Regions from separate parts of the Homo sapiens genome. Here region 2 is linked to region 1. The links come from fine-mapping of genetic effects on gene expression. A gene starts in region 1. The other region holds a variant in brackets. All regions are shown on one strand. Distances are between the middles of the regions. Region 1 holds the start of PARVB (parvin beta). Region 2 overlaps PARVB (parvin beta).

Region 1 (5,256 bases):
ACACACACACACACACACACACACACACACACACACACACACACACACAGGGCCTAGTAGAGACGGAGGCAGAGACGGGGCAATGCTTCTACAGGCCGAGGAACATGGAAGATTTGCTGGCAAACCCCAGGAGCCTGGAGAGATGCAGGGAACAGATTTGCCCGTGCAGCCTCCAAATGGAAATGAACCTAGCCTACACCTTGATTTGGATTTCTGGCCTCCTGCTGAAATCCTAATCCCCAGTACACAGGGGTATTACAAGGACACGGTCATCTTGGATTACAGCCCACTCTGGTGACTTCATCTTCACTTGATCATCTGCAAAGACCCTTGTGAGATGATGATATTTATCAATTGGTTTTCCTCCACCGTGCCTGCCTCATAATTCCCGTAGACCTTGTTATTTCTCTCCAAACTGTGAGAGAAGACGTTTCTGTTGTTCTGAGCCCTCCAGCTCATGGAACTTTGTGCTGGCAGCCCCAAGACACCCCAGTGTCCTCTCCCTGTCTCTTCTGCCTGGTGGGTCTTCTCCTCCTTTACTGAAAGGAAAAGGGCATTTGATCCTTGTTCCAGGTCAAATGTCCCTTCCCTGCAAGCCTCCTCTGCCCACAGCACTTCTCCCCCACCCCATCCACATGGTCCCTGTCCCTCCTCCATGCTGGCCACGCTACACGGCCACTGTGTCCTGTGCCCACGTTCTCCTTGACCACAAACTCCTGGAGGACAAAGCTCTGTGCCCTTGGTCTTCACGCCCCTGGCTGAGGACTGGGCCTGGCACCAACTTGACCAACAGAAACATGTACTGCACTGGGGGGACTGGGGGGCAGCCAGCACAAAGGGAGACAGAAAAACCATCTCAACCCACACACCCAGAGCTGAACCCACTTCTCCCCAGGTGCCGTCCTCTGCTGAGTGATCCACCATGGCCTGGCAGGACACCCAGCCTTCACTCCTCCTACTTCTTTTTTTTTATTTTTTATTTTTTTTTTATTTTTGGAGACAGAGTCTCGCTCTGTCACCCAGGCTGGAGTGCAGTAGCATGATCTCTGCCCACTGCAACTTCCACCTCCCGAGTTCAAGCGATCCTTGTGCCTCAGCCTCCCAAGTAGCAGGGATTACAGGCATCCACCACCATGCCCCGATAATTTTTGTATTTTTAGTAGAGATGGGGTTTCACCATGTTGGCCAGGCTGGTCTTGAACTCTTGACCTCAGGTGATCTGCCTGCTTTGGCCTCCCAAAGTGTTGGGATTACAGGTGCGAGCCACTGCACCTGGCCTACTCCTCCTACTTCTTCAAGGCTGGGGCTTCTGGCTGTGAGCATCTCAGAAATCTGTTTGCTTTTCTCCTAAGTCACCGTCCGCCTGCCTGTGCCTTCTCTGTCTCCAGCACCTGCTGAGCAGCCATCAGCCAGAGGCAACATCTGTGACATCACAGCTCAAAGCCCTGCCTGGGTATCTAGGCTGGGCATGGTGGCTCACACCTATAATCCCAGCACTTTGGGAGGCCGAGGCAGGCGGATCACCTGAGGTCAGGGGTTCGAGACCAGCCTGGCCAACATGGCAAAACCGCATCTCTACTAAAAATACAAAAATTACCCGGTCGTGGTGGCGTGCACCTGTAATCCCAGCTACTCAGGAGGCTGAGACAGGAGAATCGCTTTAACTCAGGAGGTGGAGGTTGCAGTGAGCCGAGATTGTGCCACTGCACTCCAGCCTGGGCAACAAAGCAAGACTACGTCTAAAAAAATAAAATAAAATAAAACAAAACAAAATAAAATAAAATAAAATAAAATAAAATAAAATAAAATAAAATAAAATAAAATAAAATAAAATAAAAATAGCCCTGTCTGGCAGTCCTCGGGATGAAGCCGTTTCCTCTGCTTCCAACACATGCGAGGCCTGTCTCCCCTCCTCTCCCCTCCCTGGCACCCCACACTGTCCCCAGGGCCTGCTCTTCTGCTCACCTCATGGTACCGGCCTGCAAGCCATTTCCTGGGGCCTCCCCGTCGCCTCTTCCAGAAACAACTCCTGGAACTCCCCTTGGAGGTCAGGCCAATGACCTGTGCCCCGCATTGCCCTCCATCCTCTAAGCTTCCCGTGGGTAGGGACAATTCCCAGTTCTGAAGGGCTCCCCCTGCCCCGGGCCTGGCTCTTGGCAGAAGCTTAACAACAGACCGGCCACGTTCGTGTGACCTGATTCTCTCCGGCTTTCAGGACGTCCTGAGGCTGCACCCACGTGGCAATGGTGTCTGTCGCGCTGTCGCCTGGATCCGGCACCACTAGCGGAGCCGAGCAGAGCCCAGGGCTCCAACGCGTAGGGAAAAGGCTGCGCCGCTCCCGGGGTGGCCCCACGCCCCTTCTCTGAGCTTGAGCGGCGGCGCGGGACGGGGACGGCTCTGGCCGGGACCAGCAGGCCTCGGGCATCCGGGACGCCGGGGCCGCGCTCCAGGCCAGGGGCGGGGGCGGGACCGGGGCGGGGGCCGGCGGCGGGGCCGCGCCCTCGGCCTCTCCCCGGGGCGACCGGGCGGCTCCACACGCGCTGCGCCCGCCGCCGGCCCCACGCGCGGCCCATGTCCTCCGCGCCGCGCTCGCCCACCCCGCGGCCCCGCAGGATGAAGAAGGACGAGTCGTTCCTGGGCAAGCTGGGCGGCACCCTGGCCAGGAAGCGGAGGGCGCGCGAGGGTGAGTGCGCGCCCGCGCCCGCCGACCCCCGGGGACCTGCCCGGCGGTGCCCGCCCTCGGCCCTAGAGCCCCACGAGGCCGCCCCCGCCCTCCCCCACGCACCCCGCCCGGCCCACGCGGCTGCGCGACCTTCGGGACAGGCCAGGCCTTTGACCCAGGACCCGTAAACAACGGCCGGGACCTGGCGCGTGGGGCCGCGGTGGCCTCCGGAGTCTGCCAAACGCGCGTGCGGGCGCCTGCGCGGCGGGGACCTCGGGCCACCGTGCGGGGCCCGCGCCTGCTCTGCCTGCCGGGTGTTCAGCTCTTCCCTGGGCCAGCGGCATAGCCAGCCGCGCGGGGTGACCGTTCATTCCATGAGCAGTGACGCTCACGTGTGCAGGGCACTCTGGGCAGACACGGCCTGGGGGACCCACTACTGGGTGTTGCGCGGGCGCCCTGCAGGGTGCGGGGCTCAGGGCGTGCAGGGCTGAGGCCTGGGAGGCCTGCGAGCAAGAATTGCAGAGATCCCATTAAAAATTTTTTTTTTTAAATTTTTTACTGCGTGTGCTCACGAAACACTACCAACCTCGTACGTTTTAAAGATTGTTAGAGTTGCAAGGGATAGTCTGGTGTCTTTAAGTGTACCGCTTGCCCAGGGCCTCCTGGGAGATACATTCTGGAATTTTCTGCTTGGGTGGGGAGGTTCTGCCCCGGGACCATGCCCTATAGTGAGATTTCGGATTGGTGAGAGGTGAGGGGAGCTGCTGTGGAAAGGCAGATGGAGAAAGGCCGGCCTCAGGTGGGTCCCCGGGAAGGAGCCCTCCCATAGCGGGTATGCAGTACGGTTTCCTTAAACCACCTGGGCCTGACATATCCCCTGGGAACTCTTCCTGTGCCTCCAGGGATTAGTGTACCCCGGGATGCAGGTCCCCCATTCATTTCTTCCCTGGGACTCTTGTATTCCTAGGGATGTGTGTGCCCCGGGAAGACATATGACAGATTTGCCTCTAGGCATGTGTGTGCCCCCATGCACCTGCTCCCCAGGATTTTTGTACAGTGCAGGGAACGCTTGGTTCCCCAGACATTTTCTCCCAGGGATGCCTGTGCCCCCAGGGATGCGTGTCTTCCCACCCGTGATCCTGTTCCAAGAGGGCAGGGTCTTGTCCCCTTCAGTAGGTCTCCTGGCGGATAGGTCACTCTTCTCTCAAGCCTTACACTGGAGGACCCACTGTAGCTTGTATTGGTCGGTGTTGGTCACGTCTCCTAAATGACATGATTAGTGGCTGTCACCCTTCTATCATCCCCACTGTTCTTCCATGCAGTCATCAGCACCCTCACCAGAAATCATTTCGGTTCCTCTTTATGGCTTGCAACGATTATAGACGCAAGTGACGCTCCCCTCCCAATTCAGCCCACAGCCTGTGGAGCGCCCGCCATGGGCCAGGTGCTGCTTAGACCCCAGGAAGAAAAGAGCGGGGGCGGGGTGCTTGCTTTCGTGGAACGGGGAATGAATACATAGACAACTGGCGCTGTGATGACGTGCCCCGGAGCACATAGAACAGGGCGATCAGAGCCAGGGGAGGCCTCTGAGGAGGGGACACTTGAGTGGAGGCCAGAAGGAACCAGAGGAAAAAGTCTTTCATAGAATGGCAAGGAACCGGAATGTTCTGGGCTATTGCAGCTTTTTCTAGGTGCCGTTTACGCTCTCGGAATAGGAAGAACACACACCCAAAGTAATGGACTGGGCCCAAATTCCAAAGTACGCAGTGCTTCTCCTCCTTGCCTGTATGAATTGATGTGTGTCTAGAAAATTCAGGCCCAGCCTGGTTTAATTCAAATGCACCAAGAATTCCGGTAGCAGGAAGCATCCTGTGCTGAATAGAACGGGCGTGGAGGCAGGAGGAGGAGCAGGACGCCGGGCACTGCTGATGCTGCTTTCGCTGGGGGTGAGCTGGGCGCCCTGCCTCGGTTCTCAGGGTTGGGGTGCCTGGCAAACAGAGGGCCACAAACCCTCCTTGGATCTAGGCACAGGAATTGAGGGACAGGCTGGATTGGGAAGGGTTTAGCGGCTTCTGTGTGGTCTCCTGGGAAGTGGAAGAGTCAGGAAGACTGGATAATGAGGGCTTGAATAATTGAGAGTCGCTGGTATTTCCGCAAGCCCATTTGCCTTGGCAACATGCGCTTCTGCCACTCCAGGGTGGAGCAGCCCCTGGCCCTGACTTTGGGCCGTCAGAGCTATGCTCGGTTGCCTACCAGGGAGTGACAGGGCGCTTGGGAGGTTTCCACGACCCTGCCTGCTGCACCGTCGGCTTCATTTCCTCCTTTGTTAGAAAGTTGAGGGTGGATTTGGGAGAACGGATGTGGCTCCGACATGTTCCTGAGTTGAGGACTCTAAGGGAGGAGGGGGAAGCTGGGGGAAGGGGCGGGCTCATCGGTGAGGTTCCAGATTCAGGCAGGGGTGTGACAAGGCACGGAGGGACTTTTGGGAGGGATGGTTGGGATGAGTGACGTGGCCTGTTCCAGAGGAGAGGGGTTAGGAAATGTGGGGCCCTGGGGTTTGGAGGAAGCAGTGCAGGAAGTGTCTGAGAATGAGC
Region 2 (5,476 bases), 150 kb after region 1:
TCACCCAGGAGTAAAGTGGTGCCATCTCAGCTCACTGCAGCCTTGATCTCCCAGGCTCAATTGATCCTCCCACCTCAGCCTCCCAAGTAGCGGGGACCACAAGTGCACACCACTAGGCCCATCTAATTTTTGTATTTTTTGTAGAGATGGGGTTTCACCATGTTGCCCAGGCTGTTCTCAAACCCCTGGGCTTGAGCGACCCACCCACCTCAGCCTCCCAAAGTGCTGGGATTATAGGCATGAGCGGACATGCCCAGCCTGCACCCCTCTTTTTAGAAGGGCTGCGGTCCTATTGGATTAGGGCCCACTTATATGACCTCATTTAATCTTGATTACCTCCATAAAGACCCTGTCTCCAAATACCATCACATCAGAGGTGCTGGGGTTAGGACTTCAGCATGTGGATTTGTGGGGGGCATAATTTGCCTTGTACCGGGAGGATATGAAGTGTTCATGTTACTCTCCCTGTAGCCCTGAGAGCATCTCCCTTAGAGTATCCTATAAAAGGAGTCGCTGCTCACTCAGTTATGGGTTGTTCACCCCCTCGCTCACCCCAGCTCTGCAGAGAACTGGGGATCCCATCGGCCATGCTTTCTGGGCTGGCCTCTGGTCGCAGTCAGTCCCTCGCTGTGGCGCCCCCCCCTCCCCCAGCTCCTTCCCAGGGTGATGACCCGCTGACCCCCTGGGGTGCACCTGCTGCAAAGCAGCCCCCTTCCTTGGCATCTCTCAGCATTCTCCGTAGTGAGCCTGGCCTTTCTGATCTTGTTAGCTTTTTGTCTTCCTGCCGCAGATCAGAGCTTTGGAGTAAGTTTTGATATGAAATCGAATGCCAACACCGAAGTTTTAGAAAACAGTTTAATATTCCCTCTCAGTTCCGGCTGTTGCTAGGCTGGGGATGGGTTCAGAATAGCCATTTTGATGGAGGTGATTTCCCAGCAGGGGAAAGAAATAATTAAAACAGCATTACGGTGTCTCTTGCGGGATGCAGTGACATTCAAAAGCCACACTGACAAAAAGCCTGGGGCTGGAACGTTCTGTGCTGCCTGCATGGCATGTACAGGACCGCGGCCCCCTGGAGCTGGTGGAGTGGCCCAGCCTTGCCCTGCTCACAGGTGGACCTGGAGAGGGCACTGTGCCTTCCCAGGGATTGGGATTTGAAAAGAACAGAGCTTGGCCAGGTGCGGTGGCTCACGCCTGTAATCCCAGCACTTTGGGAGGCTGAGGCAGGTGGATCACTTGGGGTCAGAAGTTCGAGACCAGCCTGGCCAACATGGTGAAACCCCATGTCTACTAAAAATACAAAAATTAGCCATGCATGGTATGTATGCCTGTAATCCCAGCTATTCGGGAGGCTGAGGCAGGAGAATTGCATGAACCCAGGAGGTGGAAGTTGCAGTGAGCTGAGATCATGCCACTGCACTCCAGCCTGAGCAACAGAGTGAGACTCTGTCTCAAAAAAAAAAAAGAAAGAAAAAAGAAAAAGAAAAGAACAGAGCTGTGATTTTCAGCCAAAATGAGCAGCCCTGGCCCATTCTGTGTCATCAGAGGGGAGAGGACGGTTACTGTGGGAGGGGGCTTCAGCTTCTCAGGGAGGTCCTGGCGGCCCCCATCTAGTAAACCAGTAAACCCATGCCTATCCTCATGCCCACGTCACACTCTTGTGGGTTTCAAGTCGAACAGTAAAAGGAATCATAAGATCTGTGGGGAAGCTACATGGGCACTTGTGTTTCACAACAGGGACCCTTAAAGGCGATGTTTCCAGCAAAGGATGTGATTTTTTTTTTTTTTTTTTTTGAGATAAGTTCTCACTGCGTTGCCCAGGCTGGAGTGCAGTGGTCATTCACAGACACACACATAGCAGACTACAGACTACAGCCTTGAACTCCTGGGCTCAAGTGATCCACCCACTTCTGTATCCTGAGTCCCTGGAACGGCAGGTGCACACCACCGCACCCGGCTTGGATGTGATCTTTTGTCCACATTCTTTTCCAATTGGTTCAAAGGTGTAGGTGTGCCTTTTGCATACCTGGGAAGGGCCCCATTAGGCTCGACTCCTCATTTTTCTCCATTCACCATCAGTTTGAGTCTGAATTCATAGCATGGCCTGGACAGATGCAGCAAGGGGCCAGTTCCAAGGCAGAATTCAGGGTGAACTCGATTCCTATAGGCTTGGGATGAATGGCTGCTGGGACATGAGGCTTGGGTGTGAGATGCCCCGTCTGCTGCTGCTCTTGGTTCTTAGTTCAGAGAAATTCTGGGACCCTTCCTCCTCCCGGCACCACGTTTTCAGTGAATGGTTCTTTGAAGAGGAACCCTGGTCCATAGGAACTGAGTGAAAGCAAGGCCAAGTATGTCCACCCATGGGGACAAACGTCCCAGCACAAAGGGGTCTCAGGCCTGCAAGGCCCAAGTGGACGCTCGGACAAGGGCAGGAAGGTATTTGCTGATTCTCCTTCTCCATGTGACGTGTCTCTCAACCCACACCAGCTAGGGGAGCCTCCCGCAGCTTCAGTTCCCCTTTGACGCCCACACAGTGTTATGCAAGCACCGAGCCCAGAGTCCCGCTGGGCCGTGGTGTCCTAATTGTCTTGGTGACAAAGAGCAATTTTATTTTAAAGCAACTGAATCCTTTCCCCCTGTTTTGTGTGCCAGTATTTTACTGTCTTCTTAATTGTTTTAAGCAATGTTTACTTTGGATTTCTGGATGTTATATAAAAGCCACGAAAACCCTGGCCATGCTGTTTGTCAGGCCCACCTGGCTGAGTGCAGGAAGCAAGCGCTTTTCAGGAGCTCACTGCAACACCGGGCAAACACTTCTTCCGCCAGGGATGCGGTTAGGACAATGCCACGTGGCGTCACAGTATGCTGTTATTTATTCCAATAAAGACCTCGTGAGCATGGGCCTGTCCACCGTCTTTGTTTGGCTGCTGTTTTAATCTTTCATGCATTTAGCAGTCATGGATGGTGCCAGCGAAGGAACAGGTGCCAGGGCGTTGTGACTCCACCCAGCGCTGCTTCCCGGGACCTTCCAATTGGACAGGAGCTGGGGGAAGAGCTGGTTCACAGCCCTTTGTGGGGGATGGGACTTTGGGAACCCCAAACTTCTGCTGGGACCACAAGGAGAAGAGGGCAGCAGAGTCACAGCTGCAGGTGAGTAATAAAGGCTCATCTGCCCCTCTGCCTGGGTCCAGACCATACGTGCACAAAGCTAGCGGCCAGGAGCACAGGCTGCATGACACATGGAGGTGGTCTCCTTACTTTTCATGATGTGACGTCACTGG[G/A]CCTTGCATGCTGACCAGTAAGTGACCGCTGTTGACTCTGAAAGGCAAGGAACCCCTGTGTGGCGGAGATGGTGGCCTGCCCTCCGTGCTGGCCCTGCCATAAACTCTCCTTGGCACAGGTCATAGCAGGTTTCAGGTGCGTCGAATTTTACGAAATGATGATAAAATTGTGACTAGTCCAGGATGGGTAGCCTGGAGAGAAAGGCAACCACGCTATTAAAAAAAAATAAGCTAAAAATTATAAACTGTGGATGGAAGGAATCTGGGCTTTGGAGAAGTGCCTGGGTTTGTGTCCAGGTTTGTCACTGTGTGACCGTGACTGCGGGGAGCGAAGTAATCCACACCTTCCAGCTGAGGGTTCTGAGGGACAAATTCAACCTCCTTCTTTCAAAGTCAGCCATTGTCAGCAGAGAGGGAGGTTCTGCCCCTTGGGGGATCTTTGGCAATGTCTGGAGACAGTTTGGGTTCTGGGCAGGTAGCTGGTGGGGCCCGGGTTACAGCTTAACATCCCACAGTGCACGGGACAGGCTCCCTTCTCCCCAGCAAAGAATCACCGGGCCCCCCTGTGCACTGTGCTGAGGTTGGGAAGCCCTGCAGTAGAGTGCCAGGTCCTTGAGCTGGCCTGTCTTCGCCTGCACTTTTATTGGGTAGGACTCAACTGTTACTATTGATGAGGATAAAATATTTTCCACTGAAATGCCGAGTTTTCAAGGCCAGCAATGGTGCAGAACCTTCTGGGGATCTTCCGATTGGTTCTGTTCAGCAGTCGTTTACCAAGGGTCTGGTTTGTCCAAGGCTGGGGCAAGTGGCCAGTGAGAAGAGCGTCCCCTGCCCTTGAGCTGGTGGAGTGAGAGAAAATGCCCAGAAAGGAGGGGTGCGGGTGGGGCAGGGGAGTGAGAGGGAACTCCCAGAAAGGAAGGGTGCAGGTGGGGCAGGGGGGTGGTTACCTGTCTGGAGAGGGACAGCTGAAGCCTGGAGATGGTGTGGTGGAAGCCAGTCTTCGAGAAGGAACAGGACCTGAGTGCTTCAGGTGCACCGGAGTAGGGACTAATCCAGGTGGCTTTAATTCTTTGTCTATTATAAAAATTGGTTTTGGGCTGAGCCTAGTGGGCTCTGGCTCATGCCTGTAATCCCAGCACTTTGGGAGGCCGAGGTGGGCTGATCACTTGAGGCTAGGAGTTCAAGACCAGCCTGGCCAACATGACAAAACCCTGTCTCCGCTAAAAACAAACAAACAAAAAAAAAAACCCACAAAAAATAAAAATTAGCTGGGCATGGTGGCGCACACCTGTAATCCCAGCTACTCGGGAGTCTAAGGCATGAGAATCACTTGAACCTGGGAGGCGGAGGTTGCATTGAGCCGAGATCACCCCACTGCACTCCAGCCTGGGTAACAGAGTGAGACTCTGCCTCAAAAACAAAAAAGAAAAGTGTAGGTGATATAGGATGGTTCTGAAGATGCTCTTAGCCTGACCTGATTCTCCGACCTTTCTCACTTGTTCTCAAATATAACTGCCGTCCGGGCACAGTGGCTTATGCCTGTCATCCCAGCACTTTGGGAGACTGAGGCAGGTGGATCACCTGAGGTCAGGAGTTCAAGACCAGCCTGGCTAACATGGTGAAACCCTATCTCTACTAAATATAAAAAAATTAGCTGGGCGTGGTGCCAGGCACCTGTAATCCCAGCTACTAGGGAGGCTGAGGCAAGAGAATCACTTGAACCCAGGAGGCGGAGGTTTCAGTAAGCTGAGACTGCACCATTGTATTCCAGCCTAGGCAACAAGAGGGAAACTCGGTCTCAAAAACAAAAAACATTGCTTCTGTCCCATTCTTTCAGGCCAATGCACTGGTGTGAGCTGCATGTCCCCAGAAAGGCCCCCCAATTCAGCCGTCACCTCCCCAGGGGGCCGTGGTGGGGAGGGGGCTCTCTGCTTAGGACAGGGCCCCTCCTTTCCTGGTGGCCAGTCTCTGGGGGAACTGACATTGCACGGCCACTTGCCCTCAGATGTGACAGAACTGGCAGAATCTGAGAATCTCGAGAAGGAAGGGACCTTCTGAGGTCACCTCTGTTCATCCTTACCCAGGCAGGAATCCCCGGCCACCGCAGGGACGGGCATCTCTGTTCCTTCCGCAAGGACAGTGCCCTGGGGTTGGGCAGCTCAGAATTAGTGAGGTTTTCCGTGGAAACCCACTCT

Evidence for each region. PIP is the estimated chance that this variant, and not a neighbour inherited with it, causes the effect.
Region 2: its variant is fine-mapped to the expression of PARVB in whole blood (TOPMed, PIP above 0.99).

What each region holds. Positions count from the first base shown.
Region 1 is chr22:44,021,769-44,027,024 of GRCh38, forward strand. PARVB (parvin beta) reads left to right here and starts at 2,534. Exons shown (of 13, transcript NM_013327.5): 1 at 2,534-2,683. The coding sequence starts at 2,572. It overlaps LOC124905131 (a long non-coding RNA gene), which reads right to left and starts at 1,007. Exons shown (of 2, transcript XR_007068125.1): 1 at 1-1,007. RefSeq lists silencers at 2,402-2,511, 2,542-2,661, 2,732-2,781, 2,832-3,041 and enhancers at 3,812-3,891, 3,902-3,981, 4,022-4,071, 4,142-4,191, 4,692-4,801 and 1 more.
Region 2 is chr22:44,170,042-44,175,517 of GRCh38, forward strand. PARVB (parvin beta) reads left to right here. Exons shown (of 13, transcript NM_013327.5): 13 at 1-2,898. It also overlaps a transcript of PARVG not described here. Among named protein-coding and RNA genes, the nearest start is that of PARVG, 8.1 kb to the right of the region's middle. RefSeq lists enhancers at 56-577, 2,392-2,571, 2,582-2,631, 4,729-5,461. The variant G/A (reference allele first, on the strand shown) is at 3,282.